Regions from separate parts of the Homo sapiens genome. Here regions 1 and 3 are each reported to be linked to region 2. Evidence: microRNA targets listed by miRTarBase, many of them from high-throughput screens and not tested one by one. Region 2 holds a microRNA gene; each other region holds the end of a gene's coding sequence.
Evidence for each region. The annotated mature microRNA hsa-miR-567 reads AGUAUGUUCUUCCAGGACAGAAC and lies in region 2 at 1,511-1,533, opposite strand. An mRNA with a match to its seed (bases 2 to 7 or 8) in the 3' UTR can be bound and repressed. Matches are read on the target gene's strand: a 7mer-m8 pairs with bases 2 to 8, a 7mer-A1 pairs with bases 2 to 7 and ends in A, and an 8mer does both.

Region 1: the mRNA of CSMD1 is a reported target of hsa-miR-567. Seed matches in the 3' UTR shown: 7mer-A1 at 2,648-2,654, 7mer-A1 at 2,804-2,810, 7mer-A1 at 2,808-2,814 and 7mer-A1 at 2,812-2,818.
Region 3: the mRNA of PAPSS2 is a reported target of hsa-miR-567. Seed matches in the 3' UTR shown: 7mer-A1 at 2,499-2,505.

The regions. Positions count from the first base shown.
Region 1 is chr8:2,936,042-2,939,041 of GRCh38, reverse strand. CSMD1 (CUB and Sushi multiple domains 1) reads left to right here. Exons shown (of 70, transcript NM_033225.6): 70 at 298-3,000. The coding sequence ends at 457. The region is part of intron 6 of LOC105377785 (a long non-coding RNA gene); the gene reads right to left. Among named protein-coding and RNA genes, the nearest start is that of LINC03021, 210 kb to the right of the region's middle.
Region 2 is chr3:112,111,147-112,114,348 of GRCh38, reverse strand. MIR567 (microRNA 567) reads right to left here and starts at 1,548; the gene lies at 1,451-1,548. C3orf52 (chromosome 3 open reading frame 52) reads right to left here. Exons shown (of 6, transcript NM_024616.3): 5 at 1,204-1,385.
Region 3 is chr10:87,745,648-87,748,647 of GRCh38, reverse strand. PAPSS2 (3'-phosphoadenosine 5'-phosphosulfate synthase 2) reads right to left here. Exons shown (of 13, transcript NM_001015880.2): 13 at 943-2,816. The coding sequence ends at 2,678. Among named protein-coding and RNA genes, the nearest start is that of ATAD1, 71 kb to the left of the region's middle.

The DNA of each region.
Region 1 (3,000 bases), not on the chromosome of region 2:
AATGAGTGGTGGTCGTGCCACTGCACTCCAGCCTGGGTAACAGAGTGAGACCCTGTCTCAAAAAAATTTTATTTAATTTTTGAAATCGATTCACTTTTTAAAACCCATTTTATACTCCCAATCACCAATTTAAGCAAATAAACTGACAGGTGTGCAGGTGTGGATGCCTTCCTTCTTTGCAAACGTCCTGGCTATACTGCTCCCTGCTCTGTAGACGTTGTCTCCTGCACACAGTCCCAGCTGCTAAATCTGCAAATGAAACCAGGATTCTAATGATTTGTTTTCTGTTTTCCTTAGAACGAGACCAAAAGTTCAATACAATGGCTATGCTGGGCATGAAAACAGCAATGGACAAGCATCGTTTGAAAACCCCATGTATGATACAAACTTAAAACCCACAGAAGCCAAGGCTGTGAGGTTTGACACAACTCTGAACACAGTCTGTACAGTGGTATAGCCCTCAGTGCCCCAACAGGACTGATTCATAGCCATACCTCTGATGGACAAGCAGTGATTCCTTTGGTGCCATATACCACTCTCCCTTCCACTCTGGCTTTACTGCAGCGATCTTCAACCTTGTCTACTGGCATAAGTGCAGCGGGGATCTCTACTCAAATGTGTCAGGGTCTTCTACGGATCAAACTACACATGCGTTTTCATTCCAAAAGTGGGTTCTAAATGCCTGGCTGCATCTGTATGAAATCAAGGCACACTCCAGGAAGACTGCCACGTCGCGCCAACACGTCATACTCAATGCCTCAGACTTTCATATTTCTGTGTTGCTGAGATGCCTTTCAATGCAATCGTCTGGGCTCGTGGATATGTCCCTCAGGTGCGGTGACAGAATGGTGGCACCACGATATGTGTTCTCTTGTGTTGTTTTTCCTTTTTAAACCCCCATGAACACGAATACTCTGAAAAAAATAAAAAGCTTTCTGGAAGAAGACACCTTTCTGATAGAGGCTCACACCTACAAATGCTTCACTCTGTCCTTCCGAGACCTGACAAGCTTTGAGGACCTCACAGCTCCCCTGTGTGTTCATCTCTAGGGATGTTTGCAATTTCCCAGTCAGCTGTTCTGTCGCAGAATGTTTAATGCACAATTTTTTGCACTAGTGTGTTATGAATGACTAAGATTCTGATAAAAAAAATAAATTATTTACACAGGGTTTATACACACTATCCATTGTATATAAGCATTATTTCATATTATCAAGCTAAACATTCCCCCATCAGCTTAGTTGGAGTGTTAGGGAAAAGTATTCCTAGATATGGCACAGATTTTAAAAGGAAATACAGTATTGAAGAGATTTATTTTATTATTGCTTCAATTAGCTCCATTTACGTGTTGAATTCATTGAAGAGGTCCAATGAGAAAAAAACAGAAGCCTCCTTATTTCACACGTTTTCCTCCTTTAGTACCATCCTCATCCAATTACTGTCTCTCTGATACTACTTAATAGCAGGGGGTTTGCAGAAATTTCTGTTTGCCATGTAAAACTGTGAATAGTAATTTATTTTAGATAGTCGATGAACTTGTGGGTTTTAGCTCACAATGCAGCCTTCCCTTTTGCAGTGTTTTTTTTTTGTTTTTTTTTTTTTTTGTCTTTTACTGTGCCATCGATCTTTGATATTGCATTGAAAGACAATATACCACAGTAGCACCTTGAACTCAGTGAAAATTGTTCAGGATCAAAATACCAAGTGTTCTTTTAGAGGGAAGGAAAAAGTACACACACTCTCCTCTCACAATGATATATTTTATACATTCATTTGTTATTTGTTTCATGCTTTATGATTCCAGATGGAAAGGTAATTTCAGTGACTTTTCAAGTTTAAATTCCATTATAGGTAAATGATAAGTTATGATGCAAATAAAATCTATAAGATCCCCAGGGCAAATAAAAATCAAAACATGAAGTAGAAGATGTGGCCGTGAGGTAGTTTATGTAACAAATTCAAAGTGAAAATCATGTTTACTTTTACTTATACTTATTTGATAAAAATATTTTTGAAACGATAGTACTTATTTTATTATTTGATATTTCAGTTCCTATTCAATTGTGGCAGATTTTCTCTGTTTCACATTTTAGATTGGCGTTGGTAATAGAAATGTCAGAATGTTCAAATTGGCCTTCACGTTGTCGGAGTGAACACATTGACACCTAGCTTTAAGACTGATTTATCTGTTGGTGTACTGAAGGTTTCCATGTAGGACTTCAAATGTGGAAAAGGAAAAGCAGTCAGGAAAATGGGGCATTCTTTGGAGAGTCACGCGTTTTGATTCGGACATTTCCGTAGAGCTCGGCTCCCAGTGTTGTGTTCCTCGGTCGAAAGGGTCTCTGCTGTTTGGGGACTCACTGGCCTCTCCTAGGGACTCCTTTGTCTTGTGAACCCCACGCTGTTGGATTCTGTATCATTATGCTGAATTCTCTGCACAGTTTTCCCTGGCCAACCTGCCCACATCCTTGGAGATTTGCTTTGCCAGTGGGAATCCTTACATTGCTGTTTCACAGTAGACGGGACGAGGTCAGCGGGAGTCGTGCTCCTAACACACACATTGAACGAAACAGAAGATGATTGAAAGTGTGAGGAGGCTCGTGTGCAAGGGAGAACAGGGTTACTATACATATTAGTGTATATATATACATACATATATATATATATATATTGTACATATCTAAGTTTGAGTCATTCAAACTAGGTGCAAAATGCTGACTTCAGAGTCTGAATTAACATCTCTGTTCCCATATCCCTGACCTGCTCCCTGGTCAACGATGCTATGAAATCCTGAAATGACAGGACATACATACATACAAGAAACCACATATCAAATTAGATATGATTTTCCTTTGTGTGCAAAGTCAAACTGTCCTAGGGTTGCCAGTTTGAAGCATGTTATTTAAATGAAAAAAAAAATCAGTGAAATTCTCGTGTGAGAATTCTGCCTAGTTTCTTCCTAAGGTTGTGTGCAGTGTTGAACGGCGTCTCCGCAAGGTG
Region 2 (3,202 bases):
ACCCACAGACACACTTTATTCAGGATGCTCTGTGAGGAAGATCTCCATTTATGAGACTTCCAGTGAGCTAAAATTTGGCCTTCTGAATGGCATTCTTAAGAACTGTTTTACATAACGTTCTGCCTTCTTAGGCCAACATTACTCTTGCCTCTCATCCTCAAGAAACAGTGTCATCATCATAATAAACACCTTGTCTTGTACTATGCACTAACACTTGTGCTTTTAACCCCCTGTTCCATGCTTCTGATTCTAGACCGTTAATGCACCTGCTGCCAACCACAACTACTTCTAATTTGCCTTTCATTCATTCAACTAGTATTTACTGAGAACCTACTCATGTGGAGAAAGTGATTCTGATGGACTGTGGATGAGAACATAAAATATTCAAGATTGTTGGCATTAGGGGCTAAATAAGAGCAAACAAGCCTCCGAGCGAGGTATCAGAAAGTGAGATCAGCAGCAAAGGCCAGAGCTTCACTACAAAGCAATGGAAGGATATTTTGAGGGCTTGAAGCCATTTGGCCTTCTGACCTTCCTTTCTGTCAGGTTTTGTTCTGAGTGTCAAAAGTTCTCAGATTCTGATAAATGGGGTGTTTGTTACATTTATTAAAGAACATATCTATTTCCTTGTTCTGTTCTTAATTTTAAAAGTTGACAAGTAAATTTGTCATAATTTTCTAAGGAAAGGAATAAACTTGTCTTTGTATACCCCTCTATTAATTTCTTAATGGTCTCAGTGGCCTTCAACAGAAAAAGAAATAGGTTCCCCATATTGAGATACTCTTTCAGCAATTTAGCTGTATCATTTATTTCCAATTCTTCAATTCTTACTTCTCTTGTGAAACCACAGTATCTCCATAAAGGTTGCTAATCATGTTGTAAAGTAGGATACAGGGCTTAGAATGTGGGTGAACTGCATGAGGAAACATGTAGCAATGTTCATCTTTATAGTTGAATTATCTTTTCCATAATTGCTCCCCAACTACACTGTCTAATTATGGAGGGCACGGACTGTGTAGCCTCCACAGAGAGGGGAACATCACCTCACAGCAACACCATCTGCTGAGGGGATGAGTGAATAAATGAATAGTCTGACACAGTACCAAGTCACCACAGTTGCCAAATCGAACCAAGCCAATTTGACCCCAATCTGGTTCACCTGTTTATTGTCACAACTCTGACTTCTTTACTTGCTCTACTTACCATAGAGCAAGAGGGATGTTGGATCAAGCCCCAGACTCTCACAACCAGGTATATTCTGATCACGGAAATCCTGTAGCAAAATGCCCAGCACCAACTCCTCACTCATCATATACTTCATAAAATTTTCATCATCTGATGGAACCCCAAATTGCAGGTCATACGTTACTGTGGCATTTTCACCACTGAAAGGCAATGGAAGACATTAAAACATAAACAGCATCATACTGCAACTCAAGAAATGAATTTAAGCAATAACTTTTTTTTTTTTTAGTTTTGCATGTTCTTCCAGTACAAAATAGCAAAGAATGTTCTGTCCTGGAAGAACATACTGTCCTATAAGAATCCTCTTCCATAGATTCATCACAAAAAGTTGAGGTGATCCTAACCTCCTCCTTCCACCTAGTACCTATCCTCTAGGAATCCACTGGGAGAGGCCATCAGAGGTAGAGGTAGAGGTGCCCATCTCCAGTCAAGATGCTGAGAAGATCCCAGGCTTGACCCACCATCTGTCCCAACCCCAGCCTTCATCCCTTAAGGCAAGCCAGGGAAGCCTCCCCTTTTCTCCACACACATTCCTTCTTCATGTTCTCAGCATTGCCCCCACAAAGGTGTGCCAGGGATATTTAGTTTAACCAATTCTTTATTTGACCTATGAAAATGTTTAAGGCACAGCCAAAGTTTCCTACCATTGGCTGGGTCCAGAACTTCTGAACGTTGACAGAGACCACCCTGTGTATCAGCAACAAATCAGGCTTCCCTGGTTTGTCCCCAAAGTGAGAAACTTTTCTGTCCCATTTCCAGAGGCCCCTAGGGCAAGATAACCAAGCCCTGTAACTCTCAGTAATGGGACCTAAGGAAAGGGAATTTTCATCTTCCTAGAACATTTTTTCCCATTTCCAAAATAAAAATAATCAAGGGCTACCCTCCATTAATTAGTGTCTAATGCTACTCTTTAAATGCTACTTCAACATTTAGTTTATTCATAGTTATCCTATTACTTTGGTTTAAGATGGGCCAGATTAAGAACCAGCAATAAAATAATGAGCAGGAGGCCACATCTGAGACTATCACCTTGGGGAAGTTTTGCAGATGCACCAGTCCCATTAGTGTGAATCAGGCCACTGCCCCTGCTAAGGATAGGCAAAGAGCTCCCTCTTCTGGCTACAGGTCACATAGGCCGATACTCTTCGATCTTACAAGGTGGCTGACAATTGAGCTTATAAACTCTACTACGGCTGGGAGATGTGCCAGATCCTGCAGATCAAATGAATAATGGAGAGTCAGGACTCTGAAGAAACTCATAGTTTCAAGGATGCCACTAAAGGAGGGCCAAAAAATGCACTTTCAAACTGCAATCCAGCTAACCTAGTTTGCAGGTGTCATAACTTGTTCCCTGAGCTCTGCCCTCTAATTATCGCTAATGATGATCAACACCTACACAGCCAGCCACCCTGCATTCCCAGGGGCAAGGACTTGGGCTGGCTAATGAAGAGGGCCAGAGTCTGACTTTCAGAAGACCAGGTCAGAAGCTGAATGGGAAAATCAGGCCACCTAGCCTGGCCTGGCCAGCCCATCCTAATCCCCCATGGCAGGTCACAGGGTAAATTTACATGAGGCTGAATTTTGAGAAAAGAGCAACTTTCAGGGCCTTTCGCCCAGCTGCCCACCACTGGAGTGAGTCTAGCAGCTAATAAACCAAAGGGCATTTTTCCAGGTTCTAGCTGGGCCAGTCCAGGGCTGAGGTCACAATGCCCCTGTAGACACAAATGCATGTGCCAGGGATTTAGCCGCCTCCCACCCATGTGCAGCAGCACCCTTTGGGAAGCAATGGCTTTTCTTCCTCAATTCAATACTTTAGGACCTCTGCCTGGACTTCTTGAAATAAAGTGCAGAGATGTCACCGTAAGTACCATGTACACTGGGTCTGTTTTGTTTTGTCTTGTTTGAGTCTCTCTGTGTCACAGGCTGGAGTGCAATGGTGCGATCTCAGCTCACTGCA
Region 3 (3,000 bases), not on the chromosome of region 2:
TGCTGTACCTATTGATCTGTCCTCTATGTTCCCTCCCCTCACCACCCCGCAACAGGCCCCGGTGTGTGATGTTCTTCTCTGTGTGTCCATGTGTTCTTATTGTTCACCTCCCACTTACTAGTGAGAATATGCAGTGTTTGGTTTTCTGTTCCTATGTTAGTTTTTTGAAGGTGATGGCTTCCAGCTTCATCCACGTCCCTGGAAAGGACATGATCTCATTCCTTTTTGTGGCTGCATAGTATTCCATGGTGCATATGTACTACATTTTCTTTATCCAGTCTATCATTGATGGGCATTTGGGTTGGTTCCATGTCTTTGCTATTGTAAACAGTGCTGCAATAAACGTGTACATGTGTCATTATAGCAGAATGATTTATATTTCTTTGGGTATGTACCCAGTAATGAATCCCAGCTACTCTTGCTTGAACCCAGGAGGCAGAGGTTGCAGTGAGCCAAGATTGCACCACTGCAGGCAAAAAAAAAAAAAAAAGAAAAACAAGAAAAAAGGCAGGGTGCAGTGAGCTTGTAATCCTAGCACTTTGGGAGGCCGAGGCAGGTGGATCACAAGGTCAGGAGTTCAAGAACAGCCTGGCCAACATGGTGAAACCCCATCTCTACTAAAAATACAAAAATTAGCCTTGCGTGCTGGTGCATGCCTGTAATCCCAGCCACTCAGGAGGCTGAGGCAGGCGAATCACTTGAATCCAGGAGGTGGAGGTTGCAGTGAGCCGAGATCGTGCCACAGCACTCCAGCCTGGGTGACAGAGCAAGACTTCGTCTTTAAAAAAATAAAAAATAAAAAAGACATGAATAAGGGTAAATAATCTCAGTTATGATGTTCAAGAGAGTTGCTGCTGTCTCACTCCAATTATACAAAGTCACAAAGCCCTTAAGTTGTGTGGTCAACCCACACCCAATGGTACAGGCAGAAAAAACTCAGCCTTCACTCTGATAAATTTATTAAAATAAGAACAAGCATCAGTTGTACATAGAAATAATCATTTGCACTAAGCATGGTACTAGAGCAGAAGAGCAGTTTTAAATGTATTTTTTAAGTCACAAAATATATCGGTTAAGGCACTATAATCCTGTCTCATGTTTTCAATAAATATGCTGGTTTTTTTTTTTAAAGGCAGTAGTGAGTAACCGATTACATGAGTATAGGCACTATACTATTAAAGACAAACTGCTGTGGCCATTGTGTGTAACTTATTCTCAAAAGAACTTTTGTTAGTTAAGATTAGTGTTTTTTAAGAATGAGAATATGAAAATTGTCACAGTTTTCTCTTTCTAATTTAGGTCTCTTCCAGAGAGACCTATATATTAAAAGGTGCTGTTTCTTCACTTTATTCCTTGGCAACAATGAATTATGCATAAAGTAAAAACATTGCCTCTCAGGAAGTAAAGCCATCAGAAGATGTCTCAGAACAGCTTGAAATCTTTGGAATAGCTTTTTTTTTTTTTCAACTGCAATAAAATCAGTGCAGTTCAGAAAACTCGACCTTTCAGTATCCGAGAAGGCAGCTTTGTAAGCACTTTCTGTTCGAGGAACTTTGTTAAGCAGCTGAGGGGAATCTGACCCAGCTCCTGTGTTGTCTGGTGTAGACAGGGCACCAGACTGGGAGTCAAGTGGCCTGGGTGCTTCTTCACTGCCACCAGCACTTCCTAATAATGGCAAATTTACATTTTGTTACGGTGCTCACAGCTTACAAAACACATACATGTGCATCATCACAGTTTGTTCACCTGTAAGATGAAAGGGTTGGATTCTTTGTTTTCTGTGGTCTTTTCCAGTTCTAGTGCCTTGCTAGTCTGATAGTGTGAATTATTTTTTATTACAGCTGGCGCTGCTGCTGCATCAGGGCCATCCTTTCTGCAAGACACAATGACCACAGCAAAGAGCGGGAAAGATAACTTTCCACGACATCGCCACATTGTTTGACGTCCTTTCATCAAATCACTGTATGCTATTAAAAGTCACCGTGTAACTGGAGTTACATTATTCACAGAGGCCATTAAGACTTCTCTTATTAGACAATATAACTTTTGTGACAGAAATAGGCTGCACAGATCTCTAAGATAAAATTCACGTTATTGCACATTTTGTTTCTCCAGTCAGGTCTTCAACACGTAAGATATGATTACAACATTAAGGCTTTGTACAGCATGAGGTAAAATATCAGGAAGAATCTTGATGTGAGCCACACCTCTTTTAGAGTGAGAAAAAAAAATTTTTTTTTTTGTCAATTGTACAGAAGAGGACACAATCTGATATATTTTACAACTGATAAATGACATTGGAAGAGTACAGGTTGTCAAGACATGCTGGAAAATATATTCACTTTTCAGCAAGTAACTAGACACATGGTCAAACAAAGCCTTAAGAAATCTGGGACCTGCCTGCTCAGGTGCAGTAGAAAATACATAGAGCTAATTTTATTATGAAATGTATAAGAATATTGCTTTTACCTGCTAAGATTTGGTCTTCAGTTTGACTTTGTATGTATATGTGTGTGTGTATATATATATATTTTTTTTTAATTATAGACACAACTTTTACTTCATTATAAAAGATTAAAATGCATCATTGAGAAGCAATTTAATACAAAGCATCTAATCATAAAAATAGAAAAGGTAATCAAAGAGCACTTCAGAAAGAAACTCTGGAGCCAAAGGCTTAGTTCTTCTCCAGGGACCTGTAATAATCTGTCAGGACCTTCCATGCTTTGGGGGCCATGAAGCCATCTGGGGGATTCTCTCCTTCCCGGGCGAGCTTCCTCATTCGAGTTCCTGAGATGAAGTCAAACTCATTGTGCCTGTTACAGGGTGGCAACAAAGAACTCAGTGTAGGTAAATGATATCTGCCTTAAGGATTCCTGGAGTAGGTTATGGTTTTTGAGACCCATGTTCTTTCTGTAAAATGCTGCATCTTCAAAAGTGGGCAGTCCTCTAAATCTTCAGGAACTTGCAGAAGAGAAGGGAAATAATGGCAGCTATCCA